Homo sapiens: one gene and its partners. The protein of the gene in region 3 purifies or fractionates together with the protein of the main gene of each other region. This does not show direct contact. Each region holds a gene or a part of one and is shown on either strand. Other genes may lie near its edges. The genes, in order: PPP3CC, PPP3CB, TMEM200A and CAMK2G.

What was found.
Region 1: the proteins of TMEM200A (region 3) and PPP3CC purify together in Homo sapiens (co-immunoprecipitation; 3 studies listed by BioGRID and IntAct, with this or other methods). This does not show direct contact.
Region 2: the proteins of TMEM200A (region 3) and PPP3CB purify together in Homo sapiens (co-immunoprecipitation; 3 studies listed by BioGRID and IntAct, with this or other methods). This does not show direct contact.
Region 4: the proteins of TMEM200A (region 3) and CAMK2G purify together in Homo sapiens (co-immunoprecipitation; 2 studies listed by BioGRID and IntAct, with this or other methods). This does not show direct contact.

Annotation. Positions count from the first base shown.
Region 1 is NC_000008.11:22,534,510-22,542,256, reverse strand, and holds the end of PPP3CC (serine/threonine-protein phosphatase 2B catalytic subunit gamma isoform), read right to left. Parts: intron 2,789-7,747; coding exon 2,759-2,788; intron 2,526-2,758; coding exon of another isoform or gene 2,389-2,525; exon of another isoform or gene 2,321-2,388; intron 1,643-2,320; coding exon 1,455-1,642; 3' UTR 1,132-1,454; downstream 1-1,131. UniProt on the Homo sapiens protein: Calcium-dependent, calmodulin-stimulated protein phosphatase which plays an essential role in the transduction of intracellular Ca(2+)-mediated signals. Dephosphorylates and activates transcription factor NFATC1.
Region 2 is NC_000010.11:73,464,750-73,472,948, forward strand, and holds part of PPP3CB (serine/threonine-protein phosphatase 2B catalytic subunit beta isoform), read right to left. Parts: intron 6,865-8,199; coding exon 6,719-6,864; intron 6,461-6,718; coding exon 6,321-6,460; intron 6,216-6,320; coding exon 6,138-6,215; intron 6,033-6,137; coding exon 5,938-6,032; intron 2,930-5,937; coding exon 2,804-2,929; intron 1-2,803. UniProt on the Homo sapiens protein: Calcium-dependent, calmodulin-stimulated protein phosphatase which plays an essential role in the transduction of intracellular Ca(2+)-mediated signals.
Region 3 is NC_000006.12:130,368,198-130,376,396, reverse strand, and holds part of TMEM200A (transmembrane protein 200A), read right to left. Parts: intron 1-8,199.
Region 4 is NC_000010.11:73,864,268-73,872,466, forward strand, and holds part of CAMK2G (calcium/calmodulin-dependent protein kinase type II subunit gamma), read right to left. Parts: intron 1-8,199.

The DNA of each region.
Region 1 (7,747 bases), on a different chromosome or scaffold from region 3:
AAATTATGTTGTTCTTTGTTTTTCTGGTTTCCTGGAAACTCCCAATATGAAGTATTACTGTCTGAAATACTTGCTTTAGTGCTAGACTGCCGCATCACAAATGACACTAAGGAATGCCATAAATGTGCACGTTCCATGCTCTGATGTAATGTTCCCAGGCATGTACATTCACTGCAGAGCTGACCAATGACTATTATGACACGGCTCCTGCGATGAGGCTAGTTAAAATGGGAGCCTAAGTAGCCCCAAAATTTCCTTCACTAGTTGGTTGTGACTTGAAAATCAAACTAAGGGAAGATAATTCACACACTACATCTGAACACTTGCTTTTCGCATTCCAAAATATGCTAATGAAGGCTGAAATACCATTCAACCTAAAGAGTAACTGATATAGAAGACAGGAAATCCTCACTTATCCAATGTTCTTTAGCAAGACCTTCAATTCACAAGGGGACCATTGAACTCTTGTCAGTTTCTACTACCCCAGCTGGTTTCAGTAATACTGACAGGGAACAACAGAAGGATGATGGGAAGGCACATGCGAGAGCTGATGCCAACAGCCTAGAAGGGCATATATACATCTTGTTGTAGAAGGTGCTGCTGAGGGCATTTATCAAATATTTAGAAAGTGACTTCCTTTACAGAAGTCACCTGGGGTTCAAAAATGAAAGTAAAATAATCTGGCAATTGTGAAAGCTTTCTGAAAATCTTTCTCCTCCAAAGTCCTAAGGAAATTTAAACCAATCATGCCCATGGTCAGATGAACAGATTTTAAGTAAATCTAAGAACATCCCTTATTATTTTTTATTTTGTTTACTAGAACATATTTAAACGAACTGAGAGTCCAGAGAAAGTAGGTTATTATAGAAAACATTTCCCTTCGCCCTTAAAATCACTGGATTTGGGTTATTCACTTTGAAGTTCTACTATGATCCAGTTTCCCATCAAAAGGGAAGCACTTTTAGCCACTGAAATCTAAGAGGACTTTCTTCAATGGCACCCAGCAGAAAAGGAAAAAAATGAAAAGGAAAAAAATCTTCTTGCATTTGAAACGTTATTAGTCTTACATGAAAGACATTACCTTCCAAAAAACAATAATGAAGACTGACTAGTTCAAGTCAGAAACCCAGGTTTGAGGTTTCCAAGGCCCTTTTATTAGGGGAAGTTCCCCTTTATAGCACAAGACTTCACAAATGTGTTGACAACAATCAGATTCATTTCTTAAAATTATGGAGAAAAAAGGGAAAAACAAAACAGATGCACTTTTTATATATATTGAACATAAATTAAAAGAATTTATAAAACAGCCACCTTTTTACAGAATAAATGCAGACTGAATTATAAATGCACCTCCACGTTGAAGTTGTTTTGAGTTGCTTTTCATTTTCCAATAATAAATAAATAGAATTTGTTCTTGAGTTTTAGATCCACCTGAGCCACGGCAGGACTCTAAGTCATGAATGGGCTTTCTTCCCTTGGTCGCTCCTGTGCGCAGCATGTGAGTGTGCTGAGGTTACAGATTTCATTGGCCCACCAGCGTGTATGCTATCCTTTCGGGGTGGCATTCGCTCATTAATTCGGTCCAGACCTCGCGCTTCTTCAAAACTCCGGATCTTGTGCTGAAGCGAGAACCCTCTGATGGCTACAGAAAAACAGGAAGCAGGTGGAGAGAGCTCAATTAGGCAGCAAAGCAACAGGCTTAAAAAAAGTTTCTTAGCACACAGCAACCTCCTAGAGAAACACACAGAAAGGTGGCTATGGAGCACACGTCTAGTGAAAGTCATGGGCAATGTCTGACTGAATCAGTCTTGGCTGCAGCTACTGCTTCCTTAAAGCCCAAAGGGCAGCTGAAATTGTGAAAGTAATTTTCATAAAAGCTCTATATGCATAATCATGGTAGACATATACCTAACAAAAAGCTAACAAGTACTTACTGGGCCCCAGTACCTTTAAGAAAGAGTGTCTTATGCACCAGAAACATACTCAATGCTAGAACAAAGGCAACACTAGAATAATTGAACAAGTTAAACCCAGGGTAGTTGCTTTTCGCACAAAGGCCACATAGACCACAAAAAAAAGTAACAAAAGAGCTAATCTTTTCGTTTAGGACAGCTTTCTATCTTGCACAACCAGGAGCTGTACATAAGTTAAAAACTTAAAAATAGCTTCTACATATTTTCCTTCCGATTCAACTTTTATAACACCAAGTTAAGGCATTCGCGTTTTGAACCATCTTACCTAATAAAACAATTACAAGTATAATACAAGTTTATCAGTTCCAATGGTTTTCATAGAAACAAAGTTAATTTAACTTGCCTACCTTAGGGCAACCTCAGAAATGAATTGAACTAAATTCCAGTCTACTTCTGCCTCTGCTCTTGAAATCTTTTAGAATCGCTGAAGAGGCTGACCTATTTGGCTCTCTTGAGAATCAAATGGATGTCTCTTGTACATGGAAGGGATACAGAAGTAAACCACTTGACCTCTCATGACCAGTTGCTTAAGCTTCTGCCGTTGCATTAAAGCTGATAGAGCCCAGAAAAAAAACTGTAGCTGTGGTGAAGGTTATTTAAAATTAATGCAAAGATAGGACACAAAGGAAACACCTGCTTCGTTAACATGCCTAGAAACAACTATACCTTTTCTCACTGTTATAGTTCTGGTGATGCAATAATAAAATATTTGAAATGTTGATAAAGCTTCGAAAAACCAGTACACAGACACATGGATCACATCTATCAGAGTAATATGGCCATACCTTCCCGGGCCTCTACCGCTTCTACTGTGGCTGTAAGAGGGCAGGAGCAGTAGCATGCAAAAACGAAGACAGAAAAAGAGTGAGTAAACCAACAGCACTGATGGCAGCACAGCCATCCCAGGGGCCCGTTTTTTAGCCTATCCCCATCCATAATGAAAGTCAACTAGTTAGAGAAGCGAGAAGATTATTGCGAGAGACTCAATTGGGGTGGGAGGAATATGGGGTGGGGGAGAGTTTCTAATATTTTTAACATTTCAGGTGCCATGGAACATTGCTCTTTTCATTTTAGGTAGCCAACTGCTACTTTATATCTTGATATCCACGTATCGAAACAACATGTAGAATCAAATAGTTTGACATCACAACAATCCTTAGTTTGTAAAATATCTCAGGTGATATTAAATGAGCTACTGCTGGGTCCTATTCAAAAAGCTTATTTACAACTACATCTTACTGCTCTCAAGTGACTTATTTGGAGTCCAACTGCCCTATTAATTACTTCATTTAAAAAAAAAAGAGTGGCCTTTGAACAGCAGACTGGCATTTGGAAGGAGAGAAAAATAGGTTCCATGTGAAGGGTTATTTCTTGTCCAGGAGTGGAGTACAAAGCTAACAAAAGCATAGAACTATTGAATTCCTAATGCAAATGTGTGTACCCATCTGCTATAAAAATATAGCAGAGGCTAATGTTTCCAATCCATATGGCTTCCATACAGTGTTCAAGAGAGTTGGCCAGTAACTAAGAAAGCCCTCTTCTTTCTTAGCAATGGAAAAGGAAGCAACTTAAAAATTAGTACCAACAGGTAAACTTCCTTGCATCTCCTTTCTCAGACAGTAAAAACGCTAATATATGAAAAGGTACAGGGTGCCACAAGAAAGATCCTATTAGGAGAACCCTGTCAGTTACTCCAGTACCAATTTGCCAAAAGAAGGCAGTGAAGAATAATGAGCAGTAACAGTTTGCTGCTATTCCCAAGGCTTTATATATCAATATGAGAAGAGAAACTGAAAGAACTACATTAACTACCTAATGGAATGTGAAAAATGGATAACTGAAATCTACTTATGAAGTGCTTTCATTTGTCAACCATAGGCAGGCATGTATTAAATCACTGTCACACCCTCTCTAATCTCCTTAAGTAGAACAAATACCCTTGACAAGAAAGCTACAGTGCCTTCTCACAGCACATCACTGATGTAACTGTTAGGAAGTGGGAGAACAAAGCATTGCTGAAACTCTACACTGAGTGTTGGTCTAATTAGAGCTTAAAAGCTACACGGTAAAATGTGTATGATATTACCTTGTTTGGGGCCCTCCCAGAATTGCTATTCACATTGGGTATAAAGATAGCAGCCTGCAGTAAGGGCCATTATAAGAAACAGTCATATCAAATGACCCGAACTTTTGTTTTCCTTTTTAACATCTTAACTGAAATAGAATTCATATACCACAAAACTCACTTGTTTAAAGTATACAAGTCAATGGTTTTAATATAGTAGAGCTGTGCAACCATCACCACAATCTGTGCTTAGAATATTTTCATTGCCCCAATGAGAAATCCCCCACTTATTAGCACTCACTTCCCATTTCCTTCCCTCACCTCTTCCCCTTAATCCTGGTTGAACACGAATCTACTTTCTCTCTAGATTGGTCTGTTCTGGACATTTCAAATGAGTGGCATCATATAATATGTGGTCTGTAGTGACTGACTTCTTTCACTTAGCATAATGTTTTCAAGGTTCAGTCATGTTGACATGTATACCTGCATTTAATTCCTTTTTATGGCTGAATAGTATTCCATTGCGTTTACCACATTTTGTTTATCCAGTTTATGGACAATTGCTTTTTTCTGCTTTTTGGCTATTATGTTGAATGCCATTTATGAACATTTGTGTACAAGTTTTTGCGAGGACATATTTTCATTTCTTTGTGGGGTATGTAGCTATGACTGGAATTGCTGAGTAATAAGTCAATTCTATGTTTAATCATTTGAAGACCTGTCAGAATGTTTTCCAAAGCAGCTGTACCATTTTACATTTCCACCAGCAGTGTTAAGAAGGTCCCAATTTCTCCACATTCTCATCAACACTTCTTATTAACTGCTGTCTTTTCACAGCCATCCTACTGACTGTGAAGTGGTATCCCATTGTGGTTTTGATTAGCATTTTCTGAATGTCTAATGATGTCAAACATCATTTCATGTGCCATTTGTATGTCTTCATGGGAAAAATGTCAATTCAATTCTTTACCCATTTTTAACTGGGTTGTCTTCTTATTCAGTTGTAAGAGTATATTTTCTAGATACCAATCTCTTAGGAGATATATGATTTGAAAACATTTTCAACCATTCTGTGGGATGTCTTTTCATTTTCTTGATAGTACCATTTGCAGTACAGAGTTTTTAATTTTGATGTAGTCCAATTTATAACTGATCTGTTTTAATCTGATGGTCTTTGTGAATCTTGTCCTGTCCTTGGCTTTCCCCACTATTTTGGCTACTGGGATGCTTAGAGTCAAATTTGTGGCTATTGGCTTTATTTTTATTTACCTTTGTGCTTCAATTTCCAAGCATATTTATTTTACTCCACTATGTTTCATGTATACTGTAACTCACGCCAATCCCTCTTAGATCAAGGTGAGACATACATGAATGTATGTTACATGGCCATATGGGATACTGTTGGTTGAAAGCTCTCCAAGTTAAGTTATATGAACAATAAAAGGTCTTTTTTAGTTAATGCTCCAGTTAGCCAATGAGCTGGTGGAACTGAGACTCCAATGTGAAAATAACAAAATAAACTCACTTCCTGTGAATCAATAAGAATAAGAAACTCTAAAAAGTTGGCTCCAACTTTACCTTTGTTCTCACACATTACTGAAGATTTCTATCAACTTTGGAAGTATCAATCAATGGTCCTATCTTGATTAAAACACTCATATTCAACTCATACTTTGGGGCTGAGCCCAAAAGGTGACCAAGAATTAGAAACAAATTTCCAAATAACATAGCTATATAATTCTGTTGCTCAGCCCTGATTTGCAGATTTGCTTTCTCAAGGTTTAGACAAAGTTGGTTTCAATTAAAACAATTTTGTGGATCAGCAAATTTTCATAATGTTTACCTAAGGATGCTATAGGACATTCCTTTTTTTCTCTTAACTCATGTTACTGCCTATTACTCTATCTTTGTTGTCAGAGTTGCTCTCGGAATATCTCAGATGACTAATTACCAAGCAAAGCAATGGTGGGAACATATTCTGCTCACAAAAAACTGCACATTTATTTGAGAAAAATATTCAATCGGAAATAGTTTACTGATACTTTCTGTGAAACTAAAGGAACTAGGAAAATAAACTATACTTCCAAAGAGAAAATGTTCAGACTTCCTTCTAAATAGCTGAACTCTAATATCTCAGTATTCTATTTGAAAGAGAAGGAGGAATTCAATCTTATAAAAAGAAAAAAGGGCTGGGCACGGTGGCTCACGCCTGTAATCCTAGCACTTTGGGAGGCTGAGGCGGGCATATTGCCTGACCTCAGGAGTTCCAGACCAGCCTGGGCAACATGGTGAAACCCCATCTCTACTAAAATATAAAAAATTATCCGGGCATGGCGGTGTACGCCTGTAGTTCCAACTACTTGGGAGGCTGAGGCAGGAGAATTGCTTGAACCTGGGAGGCGGAGATTGCAGTGAGGCAAGATCGTGCCACTGCACTCCAGCGTGGGCAACAGACCAAGACTCTGTCTCCAAGAAAAGAAAAAAAATGGGTTTGTCCCTGTTAGTCAATAGCAATGAAATTTCTACAAAAGAAAAAGGACTCCTATAAATGGCAGGATGGCCAGGCACAGTGGCACATGCCTGTAGTCCCAGCCACTCGAGTAGCTGAGGCAGGGGGATTGCTGGAGCCCAGCAACCGGGCGCTGCCATGAGCTATGACAGTACCTAGCCATTACATTCTAGCCTGGGCAACTCTGTCTCTTGGGAAAAAAAAAGAAAAAGAAAAAAGGCCAGATGAACGATGAGGTGGGAAAAAAACTAAATAGAAACAATTCAACAAAACAAGGGGAGCAAAAAAAGCAGTTAAACTTTAGTTTAAGATATTAATGCTTCAATACCAATTTTCATACCTAGTGTTAGTCACCCAGTAATATGATCTCCTGTCTCTTCCCCTTGCATGTTTATTCTCACGAACATCAACCTTTTCATTCCGGGATTCCAGAAAGCCCTTTCCTAAGAAGTCAGCTCCTGGGTAAATTTCAGAATTGGTACTCTGATTGAAGAGGTGATTTTGGCACTGGAATAGAATATGGCTGCAGGGAAAGAGGCAAACTCCCTCTCTGATTGAGAAACTGCAACCCCCTCAAACTGTTTTCTTTAAGGTACAAAATATACACGAGGCACAGCAGGTGCACAAATCTGAAGTGTACAGCTCAACACATTCTTACATAAGTATACGCATGTCTAACTACCACCATGATAATGATACAGAACATTCCTAACACTCTAGATGTTCCCTGTGCCCTTCTGGGACAATATTCTCCCACCAGAGGAAGTGACATTCTGACTTTATTATCACTGATTAGTCCAATGGTTCTTAAATATTATATAAATCAGACAGTCTGTGCTCTTTTATGTCTGGCTTTTGCAGTTTTCTGTAATGTCTATGAGATTCAACCATGTTGTAGCATGTGTCCATAATGTGTTATTTTTTATTGCTGAGTATTATTCCATTGTATAAATAGAATACAGTTTATTTATTTATATTTCGGAATACAATTTATTTATGTAGTCTGCTACTGATGGACATCTGGGTTGTTTCCAGCTTTGAGCTATTATGAATAAAGCTACAGTGAACATTCCCATGCATAACCTTTGGTGAACACATCCAGTTTCTCTTGGATATACACCAGGTGTGGAACTGCTGGGTTACAGGGTAGACATATGTTTAGCTTTACTGCCCAGTAGTTTTCTAAAGCGCTTGAATCAA
Region 2 (8,199 bases), on a different chromosome or scaffold from region 3:
GGTGAAACCCCGTCTCTACTAAATATACAAAAATTAGCCAGGTGTGGTACAGCATGCCTGTAATCCCACTACTCAGGAGGCTGAGGCATGAGAATCACTTAAACCCGGGGGATGGACGTTGCAGTGAGCTGAGATTGTGCCTGGGCAATAGAATGAGACTGCATTCCAGCCTGGGCAACTGAATGAGACTGTGCCTCAAAAAAAAAAAAAAAATTAATAAATGTTTTTATTTGTACTTTTAAAATGTGACTCTTTATCTTTTAGAAATATATTCTAAAGTATTTATAGATAGAAAAGAGTTGAGATTTGTTTCAAAATAATTGAGGTATGAGGTGGGGAGTACTGGATGGGGACATAAATGATACAAGATTGGCTATGATTTGATAATTGTTGAAGATGAATAATTGGTATATAGGAAATTCATATTATTCACTCTACCTTGGTGTATGTTGAAAATTTCCCAATGTAAGTTATTTTACTTCTTTAGAGACAGGGTTTTGCTATATTGTCTAGGCTGGGGTGCAGTGGCTATTCAGATGTTTGATTGTTGTACAGTGTATTCTCAAACTCCTGGGCTCAAGTGATCCTCCTGCCTTAGCCTCCCTAGCAGCTGGGACTACAGGCCAATGTAGGAATATTTTTAGTGAAACAGAAAAGGGGTTCTTGGCTAGGTGCAGTGGCTCACACCTATAATCTCAGTGCTTTACAAGCCCAAGGCAGGAGGATTACATAAGCCCAGGAGTTCAAGGCTGCTGTGGGCTATGATGGCACCACTGCACTCTAGTCTGTGTGACAGAGCGAGACTCTGTCTCTATAAAAAAAAATAGTGGGGGTTTTAGCTCCCAAAAGGGTAAGGAAACACTGCTTTCGCCTAATTTTGGGATTAAATCAGCCTTTCAGGAAGCCTCTGGCTTAGGTTAGTTCCTGCTTCTCAGGAACTAGACCCAGAGTCCAGCTGGCTTCTTCGAAGTAAAACAAATGTCACTTGCTGCTTTTCACACCAAAAGAAAATGCTCATTACCATCAAGAAGTAGTCAGGCTATCTAAACAGCCATCATGTATTAAAATAGCAAAATATGCAAAGAGTTTGAGAAGATTTTCTTACTGTGCTCAACACTGGCTAGAATTCTATTTGCATGTAATGTTAAAATCTGAGCTTTACATTTTTAGAGAGATGTGAATAATTTAGAGAAGATCTAAAGAAAAACAACAAAAATGGTCAAAAAGTTTGAATATTTCTTTGTTTATAAAAGATGATTTAGAGTGGCAATGGAAAAACTAAAGATCACTTAGTACCAGACCTCAAATACAGGAATACTGATAAAAGCCTACTGTTCTCCATCTTCACTTGTAAGGGATCCACAGAATTCATCTTAAATTATCTCATCTCTCAAAAGGAGTTGGGCTAAATGACTGTTATATCCACTTATGAGCTCTAAAACCCTATGATGCCCTGGTTTTTGACAGGTGCATTAGTTGAGAAAAACCTATTATCTCTATTTCTTTCCTTGTTTAAATACTCATAGCATAAATATTTAGATTAGATATAACGAAATATTTCCTTATGTGGGACTATCAGAGAATCAAATTAGAATCTATGAAATGTCCATTTTCCTCCTACCTTATCTTCCTGGCCCCTCCATCCTTCCCATATTACATTAAAACAGTTGAGTTGCAGTCTAGCCTGAAGGCAGGAGAGTGAGCAGGATGAATTATTTAATTCATCTGATGATGCTATGATTGAACTATTTCTCATACACCAAAGATAGAAGGTTGTAAGTGTAATGCATCCCTTGCACCTAAGCCCTTAACTGGCCCCCTTCTCAAATGCTAAAGGGTAATTCTATCTCCGTATTAACATTGGACCTACTGAGTAAATGAAGAACACCAAATGCAATCTGCAGAAAACCTGTTTAACATACACAGTTTAAGTATTAATTCTGAATTTCAGAACTACAAATTGCCTTGGCAGAAGTGACGTATCTCATACAGAAAGGAACATTTTGTAATATGGAAGAGGTGAGAAAAAATAGAGGGGGATACTGAACAAAATGTTTTATAATCATGTCTGTACTCTCATAATGTCATTTTCCACATATGGAAACTGAGGCATTTTCTTATGAAAAAAATTAACTTAAAATGGAAAAGAACATGATAGGTAACAAAATCCTAAGAATTCTATAGAACTACAAATGAAACACAGAAACAGAATTTCTTAAATAGCATTTATTTTCTCTCAAAAAGCCTATTATGTACTAACAAGTGTTCCTCTAAATTAGAAAGGCATCACTACTAAAATTTTATACATATTTTTTATATAAGAGAAGGAATATTGGGTTACAATCTGAATTTCTCTTTATGATTTCTCTTAAAGTATAGAACAGCTATTAAAATGACTAATATTGCTAAAATGAAGGCTACTAAATTTCCCCAAGAATTTCGGTGGAATGCCCAAAAATGGTGTTAAGATATGCAGAAGGGCCCATTTCAAGCAAAGCAATCTCTCCACCCCTTCATAAAAGATTTAAGCTAAAGAAAAAAAAAAAAAGAAAATCCAACAGCTGAAGACATTGGGCTATTTATAAATCTTCTCCCAGTCCCCCAGACAGCCTCACATGGGGGCTGTAAACAGCTAACTAAAATATCTTTGAGACTCTTATGTCCACACCCACTGACACAAGGAGAGCTGTAACCACAGTGAAACTAGACTTTGGTTTCCTTTAGCAAGTATGTGCCTATGATAGTAAACTGGAGTAAATGTAACAGTAATAAAACAAATTTTTTTTAAAAATAAAAATTATACCTTTTTCTCCAACAAACGGTAAAGACCACGTGAAGACATCCATAAAATTAGGCAACCAGTAAGGATGTGGAGAACAGTTAAACTGTCGAATATTCATCACATTATTTTCATACTTTAATACAGCAGCTGCAAGATAAGTTGAACATCAATAACTTAATAGATAAGTAACTATTTGTCATTAGCCTTAAAAATATAAAATACATAAAAGCAGAAAAATATTAAGAGGAAGGGAGATCGGGGGTGAGTGGAATCAGGGCTGGTAGAGGGAGGAAGGAACTAATTTTTAATAATAACATAGGTTTTGTTTTTAACACTGTTATGTAGAACTATAACTATAGTCAGGTCTTCACATTACTAATGAAATTTCCAGATTCTTTCCAGAATGTTTGTTTTACTTTATAATCCAATGATGAACATACATTTTTACTAAATCCAAAATTGTGAAAACTCAGTTTTTAGAGGAAACACAGAATGGCAATGAGCAATTTTCTAGGTTTTTAAAGTTCAAACAAATTGAGAATTTAAGATCTTTCTAGCTTCAGGCAACCTGAAAAGGATAGCTGAATGGTAATAAAGCAAACAAAAAAATCCCACCCATTTGGAACATTTTACTTATAAATGTATGAATGTATTTGTTTCATTTAATATGGAAAATCAGACAAAATTACTACAAAGAAATATTTTACTTTGTTTAGAAAAAAAATCCTACTAAAACACCAAAAGAGAATATTATAACCAAACAATCCAGAGATAACATTTTCATCTCAAATGCAGGTATCTAATGTTTCAATATGTTGATATAATTAAAATCTTAAATGACCTACATAGATTTCAGTTACTGGTTATATTACTGTATAGAACACTGGGTTAGAAGGGCTGGATTCTCATCTAAACTATAGCACATACTAGCTGTGCAATGCTTGGTAAATTATTCAACTAATGTGTTTCTCATTTATAAAACAGGACTAATATGTCTACCCTGCCTACCACAGAAGTTTAAGATCAGACAATGCATTTCACATGAAAATACATAAAAGTATAAAATGTCTTGTAGATATAATTTTATGGTTACTTTTTTTTCATTTTAATGAAAAGCACTGAAATGCAGATGTTAAATTCCAACATTTGTGATTGTGGCTAATAGAGAATCAAAAGTAATCCTGCTACATGTTACTGTTTACTAACTTAATAAGTATATGTTTGTTTCCCATATGAAATTCCCATCTGAAATAAAAGTATTTTAAATTATATGTTTTGACAATCAGTTCAAAGTGGGAAAAAAGAGTATTTTAAATTAGTCTCAAAAATTATGAGCTGATACCAAGCTTTCAGATCTTTTGTAAGGGATAAAAGAGAGAAAAATCTAGAAAATTGCCTTATGGATAGAATGAAAAATTACAAACATACCCATACAACGTAAACACTCAAACCATTAACACTATTTATGTACAGACTCAGGACTACAAAGAGACATCTGATTTTTGATAAGACAGTCAATGGTTTGAGCCTCTTTTCTAAGTGCTAAAAAAAATCCATCCCTTAACCTCCTGAGTCAAACCAACAAAGGACAATCAGTAAGGCAGTACTCAACTGGACACTGAACACTAGCTCCCTTAATATTAACAAGAGGAAGTCACAGTTGAGGAATTAGAGCACTGGTAGAAAGTTAAATTTAACACTTGGTTCTGTTTTTGAGAATGGAATCAGGGCAGGGGCGCAGTGGCTCAGGCCTATAATCGCAGCACTTTGGGAGGCTGAGGCAGGCAGATCACTTGAAGTCAGGAGTTCAAGACAAGCCTGGTGAACATGGTGAAACCTCATTCTATAAAAATATAAAAATTAGCTGGGCGAGGTGGCGGGTGCCTATGATCCCAGCTATTAGGGAGGGCTGAGGCAAGAGAATTGCTTGAACCCAGGATGCAGATGTAGCAGTCGGCCGAGACTGCACCACTGCATTCCAGCCTGGGCAACAGAGCGAGACCCTGTCTAGAGAGAGAAAGAATGGAATCAAAACTTAGATATGTTTCTTCTCAAAAATGAAGTCATATTTCATAAGATATCTATAGTGTAAGTTCTTGTAGCATATTCTGTACCCAAGTTATCCAGCATGCTACTGTTTGGTCTCAGGCAAGTGTTTTAATCTTTTAACCATCACCTCTCATCATCCAAAAAAACTTCCTCTGTTCCTCTTTTGAACTTACACCATGACCCTTATTTAGCAATGACCTCATTCTCTCTCTAAATGTCCTTTTTAAAGTCTTTAACCTTCTGTTCTTTCCTCTTGGCACATCCACTCCAGTCTGATCCTGAAGCTATGGCATAGTCAACTGAATTCCAGACATGTCAAGACAGAAGAGAAGCTGGCCTCTTAATATCATCTTCCAAAGATGTAAACTACATAAACATACCCAATCTCATCTTCAATGTCCTTGGCACACACTTAACTAGATTAAGACCCTTTGGCACTTTCTGTCAATAAACTGTATTCAAAATAAAATGAAATCCAATTACTATAGACAGGTCAAATTTTCAGGGAAGGTGGGGAAATGAAAATCTCTGGAACGGAAGGCAAAGGAAAAAAGCAGTAAAAATAAAGAGAAGAATGTATCCCTCAAATGAGATGAAACTGAATTAATTAAAAAAAAGCTCAAATACAAATCTTCATGGGGCAGTGATAAGACTGTGGAGGTAAAAGAAGGAAATAAGAAAGGGAAAGAGAACCTAGATCAGTGAACATAAAACAAGAAACATGATAAACTAAACAAGTAGACAGTGCAAATAAAATCATCAAAGCAGCAGCAGCTTTATACAAATAAGAAAACATCCTCAATAAGGGAAAAGATTTAAGAAAGGGGAGTTTGAGAAAATCATGTTTGGTTTTGCTTGATGCACTTAACTCAGAGCACGTTTTACAAAATGGCTTTTCCAAGAGACAAGTTGTGGAATGGGGTTACATATTACTTAGTTTCACATTTTGGATTTTTATTTATTGTTCTCTCCCCTCCATCTTACAGTTATTTATAAAGAAATCTGGATACTAATAGTTTCAAACAACACCCCTTTTTTATTATATTAAAAAAAGTCAATTAAAATACTAAGTTGTTTAACAATTTTTTTTATCAACAATATCTTACCTTTATTATTGTAGACATCTAAGTAATTAGGTGCCGAAAAAATTGTTATTAATGAAGGGAACCCTGTAGTTTGACTTTTTCTGTACATTCTATAGCTGCAAAACAAATAGCTTAATATGCATCGTAAAGCATCAATCATGGTTACTAAGTTTGATTTATATTTTAGGTGTTAATTTGGGTCAGGGAAACAGAATTCTTACCCTGCATCTTGAGCTTCATGAGCTCTAATAATCGATAACAAATTATTGTTTTGCAAAAATTCACACACTGCTGGATAGCTGTGGGGGAAAAAGAGTAAATTAAGTAAAATAATGGCTTTTCTGTATGAAGCATATGCTATGTTAACAACTAAAATGTGATTAATCTTGGATATTTTTCCTTACTTATAAAAATAAGAACATCCTCGAACTGTATTGTGACTAAAATGTTCCTGTGATTTTTCATTTCCAAAATCTTCAGAAGGATCGGACCATAACAAGTCACACATTGGTCCAAATGCAGGTGGCTCTTTGAATCTATCTAACTGTGAAAGAAAGAAAAGAAAGAACAGAAGTAACTCATCAAAAAGTAAGGATAAAATGTGCATAGGAAAACGATACCAACTTTGAATACAGTTCATACTATATTATTGTGAATAAACAGAAGTTATTTCCTTAAGATATCAGTATACTAATTTTTACTATTACCTAATCTTGGCAGTGAAGTGAAGTTTGAAACTTCTGCTCTACTCAACAATGTACTATAAATAGAAATCAATCTCGGAAGTAAAATATATACTTACTCTCCTAATATCATCCAGTGTGTGTATTTCTGGTGAAAGTCCACCATGAACACAAAGAAACTGTTGGTTTAAAAGTGCAGCAAGAGGCAAACTATCAAAAGCTTCCATACAAGCTTCATAGACTCTTTCCGAATACTTAATTTTACCTAGAAAAACAAAAAACTAATTGAAAATTACATTACTGGTGGTGGTGTGACCATTTTAAAAACATATATATTAGATTTTTATTTCTTGTTCTCTCCCCTCCTTTATATCTTATAGCTATTTATAATGAAATTGAGATAGTTACAGTTTCAACTGTAGTAATAGCCCAGACAGACAGACAGACAGATGGCAAGAAAATTATAGACAGTAAACAGCAAAGTGGTGGCCAGGGCTTCAGAGTGAGTGAAGGGGTGACTATAAAAAGGTAGCAAGAGAGAACTTATGGCATGATAAAACTTTTCTGTATCATGATAGTGGTAGTGGGCAACTCTATGCAGTGTCAAAAGTCACAGAAGTAAATACCACAGAGAATAAATCTTACTGCACACAATTTTTTTAAGGAAAGCATCTTCCCCTATAAGAATCAACAAAAATATGCAAAGTTATCTGTCTTATGAAGACAAAATATTTGCTCTCTCTAAAATTATTCTCGATGATGTTATGTCTTATGAAGCAAAATATTTGCTCTCTAAAATTATTTTGGATGACAGAAAAGTCATCACGTATTGTTAAAAATAAGTCAGTCAAATCTCTAAAAACAGGCCAGGCACGGTGGCTCACGCCTGTAATCCCAGCACTTTGACAGGCCAAAGCAGGCAGATCGCTTGAGGCCAGGAGTTTGAGACCAGTCTGGCCAACATGGCAGAACACTGTCTCTACTAAAAATACAAAAATTAGCCAGGCATGCTGGTGTGCACCTGTAATCCCAGAGACTCAATGGGTGAGGAACAAGAATCACTTGAACCCAGGAGGTGGAGGCTGCAGTGGGCCGAGATCGTGCCACTTGCACTCCAGCCTGGGCGACAGAGCAAGACTCTGTCTCAAAAAAAAAAAAAAAAGAAAGAAATCTCTTAAAAACAGCTCAACCCTTCACCTTTATCGGCCAAATAAGGCAAAATTAGAACTGTACTTGAGGTTAAAATCATTTTAATACTTGCTTTATTTTATTCTAAGAGTCAATGACTACTTTATTCTTATTACAGGCAAGATGACTACATCATCACAACAAAATTCAAGGTTCATCCATTTTTTCTGAAAAATAAAAGATAATAGCATGCTCATGTCAGAAAAGCTGAGGGGTTCCTCTTGCCTACAATGAATACTTTAAAATGGGCAGTGAAGCAGGAAGCCAATATAGAAACACAAGAAAGACAAAACTCTACCAAATCAAACTATCATTTACTTTTAGAGAGATATCATGCACTTTCATTTGCTCCTTTACAACTTTAAATTCCTATTTTGGTTTTGATGAGATTTTGGTAGGTGGTTTGTTATTT
Region 3 (8,199 bases):
TGTGGAGTCCCAGCATAAGAATCGCTTGAACCCAGGAGGCAGAGGTTGCAGTGAGCCAAAATCACATCACTGCACTCCAGCCTGGGTGACAGAGTGAGACCCTCTCTCAAAAAATAATTAATTAATTGAATGTGATAATTATTTAATGTGATAACAAATAAATTTGAAAATAATTAATGTGATTTTATATCCGAGGTTAATTTTTTTTCTTACAAGTAGAATATTCCACATGGTTAATTCCGCAACATTTATCAAATGTATATAATGTACAAGTCAATATGCTAGGCTCAGTTAAAGAATACAAGTTCACATAACAAAAACTCTGTGGTGGACTTACTAAGCTCTATATATTCTTTTGAAATTGCTATTTATATTTAGTTATATTTATAAATTTATTAAATATATTTACGTTATATTTATATTAAAACCCCTTTGTAGGGAGACATACTGTATATGAAATGTCTTCAGCCATATAGTGATATATGACATATCTTGACCATAACTACATATAGTCTCTAATGTGAGCATTGTTTTTGCTCCCAATACCAATATCATCATTACAGTGAGGTAATACTTTGCACTCTTCATCTCAACACTCATTTTTAATAAATGACCTCAAACATCATGCTCCAAAAGAGCAACCTTCTAATGGCTTTCCAGTGCACTGAGTATAAAACCTACTCCAATGCCCCCTCCCCAAATATGTGAGGCTGGCTCCTCATTCTCTCGCAGGTTGTAGCTTAAATGCCTCAAATGCAGAGAGGTCTTCCTTGACCATCTGATCTAAATGAGCGCATGCACTCTCTATGACATCAGATTTCTTGACTTCCCTTACAGCACTTTTTGAATGCCTGAAATTGCCTTGCTCATTTATATGTTTCCTGTTTGTGTCCTCCATTTACAATGTAAGCTCCTCCATAACTTTTTGTTTTGGTCATTACTGGATCCCCAGCTGGCAGCACAAATATTTAATGAATCCTTTATTAATTAATAAACCTTCTCCTGAGCCAAGTTTACTTTTTAACGCATGTTATAAGAGATTTTATGTGTCTTATAAGTAAGTAAATAAATGTATAGGCATAAATTCCTACACAGTGTTCTGCGTTATTGTTGTGTAAGAAGATCTGTCTCATATTTGACAAAATGAGTCATAATATAATTTAACAGCACCTGCTGAATGAATCTCTCTAAATAATCATTTGTTGAACAAATGAACGAAAATAATTTTGTTCAAAATTACTGACTGAGATCCATAAAGGAGAATAGAGTTATTACAATAGAATAATATCCTTCAACTTTTAGAAGAAAACCAAAACATTTTTTATTTTAGTTGTAAATTATTTTTGTAGGAATATAATAGTTGTGGAAAAATTGAAATTGGCACTCAAAAACCACCTCAAATTGACTGCTACTGTAAGTTTAATAGTTCCCTTTACTCTCAGTAAGTGTTTTTAGACAATAAAATACCCTGCAGAGGTATGTGTAAGATCCAAATTCCTCTTCTGGAATAAGTCAAAGTTCATTGCCATAAAACTAGGTACTGTGATGTGGTTGAATTTTCTTTGGAAAAGAGAGTAAAACCAGAAGTTTCAAAATTCAGGAAGTTTGTTTCTGGGCAATCAGTGACTAACATTATAGAAGTTTTCTAGGGGAAAAATCTCAAGCATTTTCATGGCCAGGTGAGGTTGCTCACACTTGTAATCCCAGTACTTTGGGAGGCTGAGGTGGGTGGATTACCTGAGGTCAGGAGTTCGAGACCAGCCTGGCCAACATGGTGAAACTCCATCTCTACTAAAAATAACAACAACAAAAAATTAGCCTGGCGTGGTGGTGTGCCCCTGTAATCCCAGCTACTCGGGAGGTTGAGGGAGGAAAATCGCTTGAACCTGAGAGGCGGAGATTGCAGTGAGCTCAGATCATGCCACTGCACTCCAGCCTGACTGGTGACAGAGCGAGACTCCGTCTGAAAAAAAAAAAACAAAAACAAAAACAAAAACAAAAACTCAGGCATTTTCAGATCCCACCTCCCAGCAAAACTTTGTCTAAGGTCATCTGCTAGGGACATAGCCATGGACAAAACAGTTACAGGCCTGCTCTCACTTGGGTTACAGCCCCAGTGAAAAGTGCAGTTAGAACACTCCATGACTACTAGGACCTAATATCCAAGGCTACAGAGGCGGGGCTGTCAGGGGTTTAGCTCTGCAAAAAGGGGCTCTCATCCTACATCAATCAACTTCTCTCACGGGCTGTTCCACAGCAGAGTCTGAAGAGTCCCCAAACAGGATATGTATAACACTGGCTTTCAAAAAATCATTCACAAGCTACTTTTTTCTATCATGGGCCCCTATCTGCATGTTCAGAAACATAAGTAAATTTTTAAAAGTGAAATGAATCACAATATCTTACATAGTCTACATTCTAAAAGGGAGATTTGGGTAACAAAGGAACAAAATCAGCAGTTAGCATAAACTATTCTTTTTTTCAAAATGGTGGCTTTTTTAAATTTAAAAATAAAAACAATCACCTAGTGAGAGCATGTGAAGGGTAGTTCCATGCACTGTCAGTCATAACTTCAGTTATTTGAAAATCAGTTTGGCATTAAGTATCAAGAGCCTGAAATTTTCATACCCTTTGACCCAGGAATTATCGTTCCACGAATCTTTTTAAAAGAAGTAATCTGATAAACATATATAAAATGGAATATAAATGCATTTATAACCCTTATGCACAAAAAACAGATTCTGAAATTTGAAGAAAGATTCATCAAAGTGCCATTTATAATATCAAATATTTGGAAATGGCCTAAAAGTTCAATTTTAAGGGAATAGTTAATAAATTATGATATGTCCACATAATCCAATATTATACTGACATTAATAAAGCTTGTCTAGAAGTTGGAAAATATTAAGACATAAGATTAAGCAAACAGAGTAGGTTGTAATACACTATTAAGCATTATGGAAAAAATCATTAAAAATAAGGAGAAAGAAAATGCCAAAATGTTATGAGTGCCTTTGGGTCATAGGATTACAGGCAAATTTTCTCCCTGACTTTTTATACTTAATGTATTTTTCTAAGGTTTTTATTGGGAGTGTGTATCGCCTTTATGATTAGAAAATCTAACAACATCTCTTCAGAAATGCTAACTCCATTTTATTGCAAATACTTGCACATGTATGTTCACTAAGCCGATCTGACTTACTTTGCCAAGGGAAACAAAATTTGTGTCTCTCCTATGCCAACCTCAGCTTAGAGACAGTACTGAGATTCTTTGGATTCATCCTGCATTTAAGCCCAAAGATGTTGATTCTCAAAAGGAAAATACTTTTTTTTCTCCCCAGCAGTTGCTAATCTATCAGCACCTCTGTGATTAGCTCACTATTTACAAGAAAGAGCCTACTCCTATTCACCATTGCTTTTGTGTCACAGGCCTCTAATATTCTTTGCATATCTCTACCAGCTTTATTTCAAAGCATTGTAACCATTTGTTTACATATTATTCTATTGAGTTGTTCTAAAAGTTTTACACATGGTTGTTTTACCTCTCCGAATAGGCTACAAGGTTCTCATAAATACTTCTATTTTTATACACCTTCTCATTCCCCTTCCTCTTGTTGTACATACATACACAGTCAATTGCGCACACATCCAGTCACACACCTAAGCAGATACAAATTTGGCCTTGTATTTGTTGGGGAACGATATGATGTCACTCACATTCTATTAGTAACTCATTTTATTTAGAGCATCCTCAAGTACACACCTTTGTAACTAGAGTGTTTCATGAACCTGCTACATTCAGCATGTGCTAGCGAGTGTCCTCTCTCCCTCTCTATATGTATCTACTTCTCATTTTTTCACATTTCAGGGCAGAGTATCTGTATGTATAAAGGTAAATTCAGGCCATGGCAGCTGGCAGAGGTCCCTTCTCTTGAACTGAAATCAGTGACTTAAATTAAGCCTTCCAAACATCTGACTTGCTGACGTATCTACCCTGCATAATGATAGAGATCCTGTACTGAGGGGAAAAAACCTACTAGATTATTAAGTTTTCTGCCAAAGCCAGATATAATCCTGCTGGACAATTCTCTTCAGACGGTCTGCTCTTATCTCACACTCAGATGTCTAAAAGTTAGCTTACTGTCTTCCTTCACAACCATATGCCCCTCCTGATTTCCCCATTTCCATCTCTCAGACTTGATATTGACCTTGTCCTGCTAGCACCAGGATGACTCCCTGAAGATCCAGGAAGAGGTCTGGATTCCAACAGATCTGGGTTCCATGCCAGCTCTTTCACTTTCCAGTCTGGCTCCAGGAGCTCGGGCAAGTCACTTAACCTTCTGAGCCTCCATTTCCTGGCTCAAGAAAAGTGGCGATGGTGGGGAGGCATAATATTTACCCTTCTGGAATTATAATGAAGATTTAGTGAGCTTACGTATCTAAGGCGCATGGCCTTACAAACGTTAGCTCCTTCCCTGATAGTGCCTGACAACTAATAAAATCCTGTCTCCCTCTGAGGAGCTGCCCATTCCATATTCTTATCAACTTACACCAGGAAGGATATTTAAAGCCATGGCAGATGGTAGAGTTCCTGTTCTCAGGTCAACAATCAAACTCCAGTTGTTCTATTGATCTGCCCATCTGTTCAACTGCCTGATAATTTTCCCATCCCCTTTCCTTGCTATACCCCAAACCCTAAATCCAGAATGGATGCATGTGATATTCTTTCCTTTCCAAGAATGTCTTACCTTGACATTCTTGTCCAGGTTGGCTCTGAGCATGAATGTTATCCACTTTCACCCTAATAACCTCTGTTCTGTGCCTTCTATTTGACCTGGAATTCTGGCACTCTCATTTCCTATCAGAAGGGCCAACCTTTAGCTGGTCCTTCAGTTTGGCCTGATACAGTGAATTTGACTTTGAGGTTGAGAGGTAGTTTTGCATAGTGGTTAAAGCAAGGCTTTGATGTCCGACTGCCAGGGTTTGAATTCCAGCTGTACTGCTTAATGGCCTCATAACCTTCAGTAAGTTATTTACCTCCCTGACTTTATATAAACATTAATATAATAACTTTAAAGTATGCAACATGAACCTACCATACTAAGTAGATCCTTGGTAAATGTCAGTTCTATACATGCCCCTAGGACTCATGGTGACCACAGGCCTCCTGTCTACACAATCTATTTGCTATTAACCTATCTACCACGCATAGCCATTTCACCTACTGGCCCAGGATGTCTTCCTAGTCTACTCCCTCCTGGCCTATTTCATTCCACAAATGCTTCTGTCAACAAAGATGCTCCTTCATCCTGACATATAACCTCATAAGAACTTCATAATATTGCTCACAAATTCTTGCTGCCATTACTCTAATTGGAAACCTATCATCTTATGCCTCCTAAATGAAAATCCTAATCTGTGCCTGCCACTCCCCTCTGTGCATTTCCAACAACCCAATGTATTTGCATAAACAATAGTTCTGTGTTAATCACTTCAGCTCCCTGTTCAAACTTTCACTGGCTCTACAATGGCCAAAGTAGGGGGTATCCAATCTCATCATCACTAGATGGGCAGGGCTTTTGGAAACAAAATCTCTGGGCTGGAAATAAGGCACAGGGATATTTGCTAGAAGTACATAGATATGAATAAATGGTGGCTTCCCATTCATTCCAGAATGGGTGTTTCCCATTCTGGAAACAATCCTCCTTTTAATAAAGTTTAAACATGAGGGCATTATTTCATCACTGGGCTATACCTTGCTTGGGAGAAAGGTCCCACTTTTGGGATACGCATTGTCTTGGGCACCTGAGTTGCTTCCATGTGCAAACTCCAGATCATTGTGCAGAGGGCTGTCCCAAAAAAGGAAGGAATTATTCCCAATAATAGACTATTGTTTTTGATTGGCAGCATTATTTTCTTGGGAGAACCACAACTCTATGTAATCTTGACAGAACTGCCTATCATAGTGCCCTACCAGCCTCCTCCTCCTCATCCCAGCACCAGAACCACATATACACAGGGTTGGGCACATGATTTAGTCCAATACAATCAGAGTAGCACTCTCTGCTAGACACAGAGACCAATTCAATTACCACTGAGCAGGGCCAATCAGAGCCCTTCAAGGAGATTTATAAAAATGGGACCTGGAAGAGAAAGGACCTCTTTTTCTCATAGATGAAAAGCCCAGGAATGTAGGTTTAGAAATACCCACAGTCATCTTTCTCCATATCCAGAAAGAGTGCCTCAGAATACAGCTGACCCAGAGAGAAGTGGGACTGAGAAATGGGGAGAGAGAGAAAGAACCTCGACAAAGTTGTGTAAGTCTCTGAGTTCCAGCCATGATTGAAGCAAGGACCACCTTTGGACTTTCTGGTCCAATGAGCCAGTAAGTCCTTTTTTGCTTTACCTAGTTAAATATTCACACATGCAAGCAAATGAATCCTGAGTAACTCCCTTCTACATGAACACAAAGTGGGGTGGTGAACACACAGTTGGGTGGTAAGCAGAGACTTGTCCCCCCTTGGTGCACTTCATGCTCAGAGCAGAGTGATTAGGGCTCTACAGGAAGGAATGTACAGACACTCATCTTACACCTTTCTAGATTTCTATGCCTTCTGTGGAATTTCACCTCTGGTGACAAAGTTTCCAAAGCACAACTTGCAGAACACATCCTATCAATTAATGATACAGTGGCCCCAGAATCCTCGCCTTTATATGAAATGCATGGATTTCCTTTTTCCAGCATCACTAAAAGCTCTTGGAAGAGTCATATCAATTACTCTGTGATAGTCAAAGCCCCAGAATTCCTGCTGGGGAAAGGGGGACCTTAGAGGAGGAGTGGGCACAGAACAGGAGCAGTAAGATTAAACATCAATAATCAGAATTCAAGGCATTTCAGGAAGTCTTGAGCTCGTAATTGGAGACTTCTGTGTTCCAGAATGTAACCTAAATTCTTACGCAGAAATTCAACCTCACCTAAAATCTGACCCTAACCTTATGTCTCTCTCCTGTTTACTCAGGGTTTCCAAAGTGAGCTTTAGCTTCTCCTATCTCTACAAATCCTGCAGAAAGGCAGTGGCGCATACTGGTGCAGATGTGCTTTGCAGTATTAGTCCCAGCTTCATCACCTTTCTGCTCTAATTACTTCCGAGGGTTGTTACAAAAATCTATTGCATCATTTGTGAAAATTCATGGAAAACCACCCAGTACTAAGTGAAAGCTGGTATTTTTATTATTTTATTATGTATTTTCAATTCACATAATCAATGTTAGGTCAGATGTCCCAGGCCAGACATCTTTTACTTCTCTTTGCCATTTCCCATTCAATACAACTAGCAAGACCCTCCAGCCTGGCTTCCTTCAACCAAAACCCTACAAACCACCCTCCTACACACACACACTGACTTCTGTCTCTCTTTAATTCTGCCAGAATTTGCCTTGCAGCATTTTAAAGAGAGACCATAAAGATCGTCAGTCCAAAGCCCTCATTCTGCAGATAAGGGCACCAAGGAGCAGAAAGGTGGAGGAACTTAGCCACTTACCCACAGCCACCTAATTAGTGACTCAGTCAAGATGACAACTCCCCATCCAGGTCCCTCTGCAACCCACTATGCTGCTTCCCAGTCTGCACTGGTCCCCTGCTGCTCTCAGACCACCTCAGCTGCCAGGTGATCTGTGGTACATTTATCAGTCCCCTCTCCATCAGCCTATAAGCCCATAGAAAAGGCCTGGAAGGGTAGCTAGCATGACACCACAATAAGCACTCACTGATGTTTTCTGAGTGTTTGAGCACATATCAGATCTCAGCAGACAAAACATAGCGTAAGTCCAGGAACAAGTGGATCTGCTTGATAAAACTGTAAATCAGATATACATTCCTTAATAAAATGAGGTCCATCTCATTGCAGGTTTGGATTTCTGTTGCTGCACAAGTTATTTTTCCTCTTTTAAATTCTACCCTCTATTTGATAAGTAACGTGTATGACTACAAGGGCTTATTTTTTATCCTCTACTAATTTTGCTTAAGAAATGTAAAAGTTGACATTTGCTTTTATCTTTGTTCTTATCTATCTTCCTAAGCTAAATATGAATTTCTTTCCTTTATGCTAAGAGTCATCATGAGAAGTACAGCATTTAACCAATCAGTTCAGATCCGTTCCCTCTATATGTCAGTAGTTATCCTTTTCTGGCCAATGAGCT
Region 4 (8,199 bases), on a different chromosome or scaffold from region 3:
CTCCAGCTTGGGGTGACAGAGCAAGTCAAAAAAAAAAAAGAAATATTTACTGAGGCCTACTATGTGACAGACAGTATTCAAGATGCTAGGAAGACAGTGGCGAACAAAACAGACAAAAATCCCTGCCCTCATGGAGCTGACACTCTAGTGGGTTGTGTATGGGGGAGGGATGGACAGTAAGAAAACTCAACAGCACGTTAGATGTCACGGCAAGTGCTGCGTAGAAAAAGCAGAGAAAGTGGGGAGTGCAGATTTGAGTAGGGCAGTCCAAGAAAGCCTCAGTAAGGAGGTGACATTTGATTAGGACCCAAAGTAGGTGAGACAGTGAGCCAGGCACATTATCTTGGGAAAGAGGTTCCTCACTTCTTTTGTTTGTTTTTTTTGCTTTTTTTTGAGATGGAGTCTTACTCTGTTGCCCAGGCTGGAGTGCAGTGGCATGATCTCGGCTCACTGCAAGCTCCGCCTCCCAGGTTCACGCCCTTCTCCTGCCTCAGCCTCCCGAGTAGCTGGGACTGCAGGCGCCCATCACCATGCCCGGCTAATTTTTTTGTATTTTTCAGTAGAGACGGGGTTTCACTGTGTTAGCCAGGATGGTCTCGATCTCCTGACCTTATGATCCGCCTGCCTCGGCCTCCCAAAGTGCTGGGATTACAGGCGTGAGCCACGGCACCCGGCCAAGAGGTTCCTCACTTCTAAAATAGAGACAGCAAGATCTGAGGTTTAACTGAGGTGGTACAGGTCAAGAGTTTTGCATAAGGTCTGGCATATAGCTCCTTTCCAAGGGCCCAGTGAGAAGCTTGACAGGGTCTCCTGGGCTGGGCTTGTGGCCACAGCTATCACCAGAGACACTGTGAATGGGACCCACTGTCCCCTCAGCCCAGGCAGATGCAGGGTCTGCAACACAGCAACTAAGCCCTCCTGCCTGGCTTCTGGGCTCCCCACATGGTCCTCCATTGCAGTCCTGGAGGTGGAGTGTCCCTCCCTGTTTTGGCGGGGCCCACCTGTGTCTACAGTCTGCAGGTGATGGGCAGCAACAGGGGCTCCTCAGAGAGAGGGGAACGCCGCAGGAAGTGCCACTGTCCGCTTCCCTCCTCTTCCTCGCAGCCGTGGCACCCTGCCATCCACAAGCTCTCCTCAATGAACAGAGCAGTTTCTACCTGCCCCGCTCTCCCCGTTCCTGCTGCCACATACTGCCCGGCCACCACCCAGCCTCTCCAGCTGTTGTCTCCTGTCTCTTCCCCTGACACTTCCTGTCCTGTAGTCACATCCAGGGCTGGCCCACGGCTGCAAAAAAGCAGAGGGTCCATCCCAGCAGCAGTGGCAGCAGAGGGGTTCCAGGATGGAGTAGTGGTTTCTAGAGCATCTTTCCCAAAAGCAAGGGCATCCCAGCTGGACGCAGCATCTCCAACCCCAAAAAGGGCGAGGCCACTGAATGGGCTTGGTCCACAGTGGGAGGGCCCTGGCTCGGCATCTCAAGGTGCTGCAAAGGTGTCTCCCCTTGAGACACCCCTCCTTCCAGTAACCACTAGGGAGAGGCTCAGACCTTCCAAGGTGGACCCTCCTCCACGCACCTTTCTACCAGGCTCATCCCCGCCCCTCCCACAGCCCAGCCCCCCCCTTCCTGTTTGACAACTGCCACTTCCCGCTTTTGCACAGGGCCACTTCCTGCCTGCCTGTGTGCTACTGCCATGGAGAGACCCACCCCTGCCGGCCTTCAGCCCAGCTCCAACCACAGCCCTCTGCAGGTTTTCCCCATCATTAGCAGAGGTGGCAACAGGAGCAGAAAGCAGAAGCAGCTCCAGCCTTTCCCCAGCAGCCTGCCTAGACCAGAGTGGTCTGAGCCCAGGCCAGAGCCAGGCCCTGGGAAACAAGGATCCTAGAAACCCAACCTCTCCCGCCTTCTGCCCAAGTGCTTCAGGACTTGGTCCAAGGTGCCACGATTTCACAGGAAGGGCAGCAAGAAGTGACCAGATGCACCAGGGGAGGCAGAAAAGAGGAAGCAGATAGGGAGGTGATAGCTTGCAGCCAAGGGGTGCACCAAGCCTGCCCCTGAACCACCTCCCCCTCTGGCCTGAAGACAGAAGCCTACTCCAATGCCCTTTCCTTCCTCTGCCAGGTCAGGGGGCCAGGGAGGGCTGGCCACAGATTCTCCATGGCCCTCTCAGGGATGGGCCTGCTTGACTTAGTGACATTTTCCTAAAAAAAAAACACAAATGCCAGCACTAGCTTCAAATAAGATCCTGCTGCCACGTAAACATACAATCCTCTGTACGTGGGAAAGGATGCACATTCCTACTCTGACTGAGGACTCTCCCAAGTTCCAATCTCAAAGACATTCTTAACTTTGTAAAGGGTATTTTGCAGGTCTGTGCCTATGACCCTAAACATGGATGTGAGAAACTTCCTGCAACCCCACTGATTTCAGGGCTCCATGGGAGGCGGCCTCACTTGCTGCCCTCCTGAGTGCCTTTCATCTTCTTCCCAAGCAGCAGAGGCCGCCGTCTGGTCCCCTTGGCACTCTGAGGAGCAGAAACAAGGACATCGCAGGGATTTGATGTCATAATCCACCTTCCCCAGCTGCTTATGCACAGCCCTGGGCCTGGGACACTGACCAGTGGGAATCCCAAGCCACGATCCCACCGACCTCACCCTGACACTGTGATGCCACATCCCTTCCTCTTTGAATCTCACTCTAAAGATGCAAAGAGTCTCCAATTAAAAGCAAAGTCCATCCGACACACAAGAGCAGGACCATGGTTTCTAATGCCCTCACACATGTACACCTGGTGACTAGCTGGGGGCTGTGATACAGAGGGACGGGGCCTGAAATGGTCCCATGTGAACCCCCAAGGCTCTGTGCATGTACCCAGCATCCTCCCCTTATCTTCAACCCTCACTCAAGCAGTTTTAACTTGGTGACACAAAGACCTGAGCCCCACTTTGGCCTCTGGATCTCAAGGCAAGGGAAGCGAGAGGCTCCAAGAAATGCCCTATAGCGAAAAGGCCCTCAATCAGCTTTGACAGAGAAAATCCCCAAGGGGTCACTAGCAAGCCCCAAGAAGGCAAGGCTCTGCCTGGGGGCACTCTGGCTGCTCTCAAGGGCCAGAAAAGGGTCAGCCGTCTGTTCTCCATGCCCCCCGGCAGGGCTCCCGGTGCCTGCAGCCTTTGCCCACTGTTTTGGTGACATTTCCTTCATGGTAACCAGCCCCAAGTAAAACATCCCAGGAAGCAGCCCCTAAAAATAGCTCCTCCCAGGGCAGCAGCAAGCAGGGGGGAAGGGAAAGAAAGGGAGGAGAAAAGAGGGGAGCAGATGGGAAGCTGCGGCTGCTGCTGATAGGGCCCAGGAAGCGGAGATGGTGTTGGGGAGGAGTGGCTGGAAATCTCCCCACCGCACAGCCCAGAGAGGTGGGTACAGACGGGAATGGGGCCTCAGCCAGCAACGAGGAGGGATTTGCTCCACCAGGCTTGGAGCTTGGGGCCTAGATGGAGAGGTGTGAGGTGATATGCCAAGATTCATCACAGGAACAAAGTATCCAGAACCTGTGTTTTAAAGAAAGGCGCCAAGGAGTGGGTGGAGGCCACACGGCCTGAGGACGCTGGGTCTGAGCCCTGGCAAAGTCATGGGCACCTGCAGCACAAAACCAAAAAAGAAAAAAAAGACCCCAGACAAAGCTTTTGTGCTTTGATTTCCCCAGCGGTCCTGCGGCAGATCTGTCTGGCCATGGGTAGGTGACAAAGGGGCTCTGCAGAGAGGCATTCAAGAGGTGCAAAGTGCCCATCTCCTCCTGTCACCACCCTTTTGGCACCCATGGGATCAGGCCCTTGTTGGTCTGCCAAAGCTGTTCAGAGAGCAGCAAGCATACAGATGGGAGCAGGAATGGTCACACCCAGCCTCCCCTTCCCTATCTCCAGTCTCAGCAGAGAATGGGGTCAGCCACTCACCTCTAGGGTTTCAGCACAGCTTCGAACAAGGGTATGGTGACAAGGGACCAGAGGAAGCAGCAGGAAGAAGGCAGGGGCCTCCCTGACAGGACAGGGCAACCTTCCCACCTCCATCCCCACACCATGATGCAGCACCCCAAGTCACTCTAGGAAGACAGGTGGGAGGGGAGGGGGACAGGCCAGTGTTGTGTGTGCTAAGGCCCACAGCTCAACGTGACCGCGTGACAAAAGCCGCCTGGCAGAAGCCTTTGCACAGAGGGACCTGCAGTCGGCTTCCATCCCTTCAGGAGAGAAAGTAGAGGCGCTCCATCACTGATATGCAGGATGCCCATTTCTCTGTTTACAGAAATTGGCCTGTTTTATCCTCAGGAGGAAAGCATGGTTTCGCACACAGCCTCCTTAAATGCTTCCTCGAGGCCTGTGTTCCAGTGCTGTGTGGATTTCTCTTCCTTCTCCCACTCCCTGCATTACTGCTTCCCCCTCCCTTCTCTTTCCCTCACTTCACCCAGATCCTTAACAGGAAAGTCTCACTTGGAGATACCACAGGGGACACAAATGTCATGGGGGCTACTCAGGCCAACACTAAGGGGGCGGGGACTCTCAGCTGGCACCATCCAGGGGATCCCATTTCAGTCCCCAGGGCCAGCTGGACCCAGAAAGGGACAGCCTTTACCCTTCTGGTGGCCAACATGCCACAACCCGAGCCACCCAGCTTGCCGCAGCCTCAGACACAGACACCCCAATCCCGAGGCCCAGAACGAGGCCCCTAATCACAGAACAGCCCATGTGCACAGATGGCCACATAGTGGCAGACACACAATCTGGAGAAGGATGGGCCAAGGTGTGTCTGTTGAATTCCAGAGGGCATGGCAAGAGCAACTGTTGTTGCAGATTTTAGGTGGCATCTCTTAAAGAGTGGCTCATGCCTCACCTGCATGAAATTCACTGGAGCATGTGTTAAAAATGCAGATTCTGCAGCTCCACCCTAGACCTCCTAAAGCAGAATCTCTGTGGCTAAAGCCCAGAAGTCTGTATTTTTTAAACTAGTACTCAGGGTGATCCTTACGCACACTAAAATTGAAAATCACTACCTGGAAGAGATCCCAACAGTGGCCCTATAGTGCCATTTAGTGACAGGGAAGGAGGAATCATCAGCTAAATGTCTGCCTACATCTCCCACTCTGCCTTATGCCCCAAGCACAGGTCTTTATCCTCATCTGTCCTCTCTTCCAGCAGCCGTATCAGGTCTGCAGCTTGGCTCCCTGGATCAGAAAGGGAGGACCCAAGTCTGTAGCAGGGTACAAGGGCTCTGGCAACTTGACTCTGAGTTTCCTAGGAGCCAAAGCCAAAAGGCAACCATGATTGGTTACATAGTCCTCTTGACCCATTCATTTAATGTGTATGTGGCTGGCATACGTCAGGCACTTCGCTAGGGCCTGCCCATGCAGAAGTATAGAAACACATAAGGACCCTTCCCTCACCTCTCAGGTCCTCACAAAGAGGAAAGCTTTTGCTTACATTTAGCTTCAAAAGAAATTTCTTCACACGGAATGTACAGATTAAATAAATATGTTAAAGTATTATAACAGATTTCAAAACACTGTTTCCGGTAGCATCTCTTAGTAAGGCCAAGGGCATTACCCCAGTATCTATCTTGGTAAAAGCAACTGGAATCCAGATAAATGGTACATATACAGAAGTTTCTTGTGATGCTGATTGTTTTAGGGATAAATCCTAAACGACGTAGAAGAAAGGACCATTTGCCCTTCAACTGTAGTAATATGGGGGAAATGCTTTGGATATAAGCAAAGAGAGCAGGATATAAAATGTTATGCTCCACGAGGTGAAAATCTGTATGCATATGAATAAAGATAAGAAGGGAATATGAAGATTTAAAAATAAAAAAAGACATAAGGGCTCAGGCTCCTTGAGGGGGGTGCTCTTAAATCTTAAAATAACGACTTATCATTGCCATCACCTGGCCCACTAGCTCCTGCATCCAAGCCTATTTTAAATGCCTCCTTCGGCCTAGTGGAGCTAAGCTTGGAACCATGGGCTCCCTTAAGAGCCCAGCTCCACTCCTATCACGGTTCTGAAGCAAACGGAGTGACGTTATGTGACTTTCAGTGACTTTATGTAGACAGGCCCGCAGACAAAGACAGTGCTCAACGCATATCCGCATGAACTCCCCACCTTGCAACCTAGCCGCCAATGTGGGCCTCTGAGGCCACAGTGACAAGACACAACAGCCCAAAAGAAGGCTTCCTGTCTCGATTGGACCCCCCCAGAAGAACAGGTGATCCCTCTCCCTGACTCCTAGCCACCTCACCAGGGATGCCAAGGAGAAACAGCTCTATACCCTCTTTTTATCTTTTCAGTTTGTAGCCCAGAGAATCACAAACAAGAAAGACAGGAGGCAGGAAGACCCAGTGAACACAGCAAGCCCCTTCAGACCTTCACAGATGACCCTGGTGGGCCCACGACATTCCCAGACACAGAAATCCAACACCTGCGGAGACCTAGGCAGACAGCGATGAGTGAAACCCAGCTCCAGTGGCTGCACCTTTATAAAATATATAGTGTAAACTGAGAGTCTGCAGGGAAGCCATGGCCCTCACTCCCTAACCCCATGGGAACCAGCCCATGGCTACCCTGGCCCAGATCTCTCCAGGAGTTCACATCTCCCATGCCCACACCTATAGTCCAGCCCCACCTTGTTCCCTCCATCTCCAAGACAGCCCCTTTCCACTTTCCCACCTCCACACAGTACTGGCTGGCACTTACACATTCTGACCCCTCTGGCTGGCATCTGTGCCTATCATCTGTGCCTCTGTCCCAAAGTCAACCTGGCACATGAGGCCACACAACAGAGCCCAGTCTTGGCATATCCATCTTGGGAGAGGGGGAGTTGCTGTCTGAAGCATATACTTTTACACAAGAATCCTCTTCTTGAGGGGAAAAAAAAAAAAATCAACGAGAAATCAAGTCTCATCCAGTTTGGCCAGGGAAAGATATCCATTGGGAAAGATGGGACAAGGTTAAAAGGAGGTGAGGAAGGGAAAGGGAGGCTATCACACAGGTCATGGAAATTTACGCAGGTAGGGAAGGAGTAGGAAATGAAAGCCCCAGTCAGGCAGCTGCAGGAAGTCACCACATCACCTATCCTCACATCCCAGAATTCGGCTCCCAGCCATCTCTCCTTCTCTTACCCATGGGTCAGAGGACACTGGTGAGATGAAGAGAGCAAAGCATTGCATCATCAACTGGAGACACCAGATGCCAGCCCTGTTTCTGATGCACCAGGGCTCTGCTGTGTGGGCAAGAGAGGTATCCAGCCTCAAGCCATTGTTCCTGCCTGCACCTTCCATCCTTGGCCAGAGGATGTCTGCCAGAGAGCCCAGCCCCTGTTGTCCCCCCCACCCCCACTCCAGGGTATCTGACTGCCCACATATCTCTATGGCAACCATCCTCAGACTCAAGGTACCCAGAGAGAAAGAAAACAAACAAGTCCAACTTTATAGGCAATGTACACGAACAGCAAGAGATGGAGCTGGATGGGAGTCAGCAATTAGTGCCCTACTAGAGGGATGGAGAGAGAGTCCCCAGTCAGGGAGTGGACACGGCCCTGCTAAACAGGTCCCAGAACAACTGCCAACACGACAGAAGCCCGTGGAATTGTAGAGCTTCTCTAAGCATTTGGGACATCTATTATGTCTCTTATCCCAGAGAAACCCGTGTCATTATTGGCCAAAGCCCATGTCTTCCCCAGGGCATGTGTCCTGGCTCCTAATATATTTATGGCATCCTACTGCCCAGCCCTAATTCCTTTCTCTGAGTTTCACAACCTTTGTCCCCCAGCTGCACCCTGCAGCCCTCCGAGATCTGACCTCTGTACTCACCAGACCTGTTCCCAGAGCACTTCACACATTGCTGGGTCTACACCTATCAGATGAGGTGAGTTTGGCAAGTACCCAATAGGAAGTTCAGAGAGTGTAGGTTCAAGGTGTGAAAGACAGGCCCTGACCCTCCAAGCCTCAGGTACTTGGGAGGATCTCGCAAGTGAGGCCCCAAGGCCTTGGCCTTTATGCTCCTCAGACTCGGAGGCAGTGCAGTTCCTGCCCAAACCGGGCCTTTGGGATTTCTAGACCATGAGGCATCACCCTCCACCCAGGACAGACTACATCTGCTGCTGCACCACCAACTTTGTAATTTGATCAAAAAAGCAATCAAGTTCATCTGGCAGAATTTGTTCCTGAG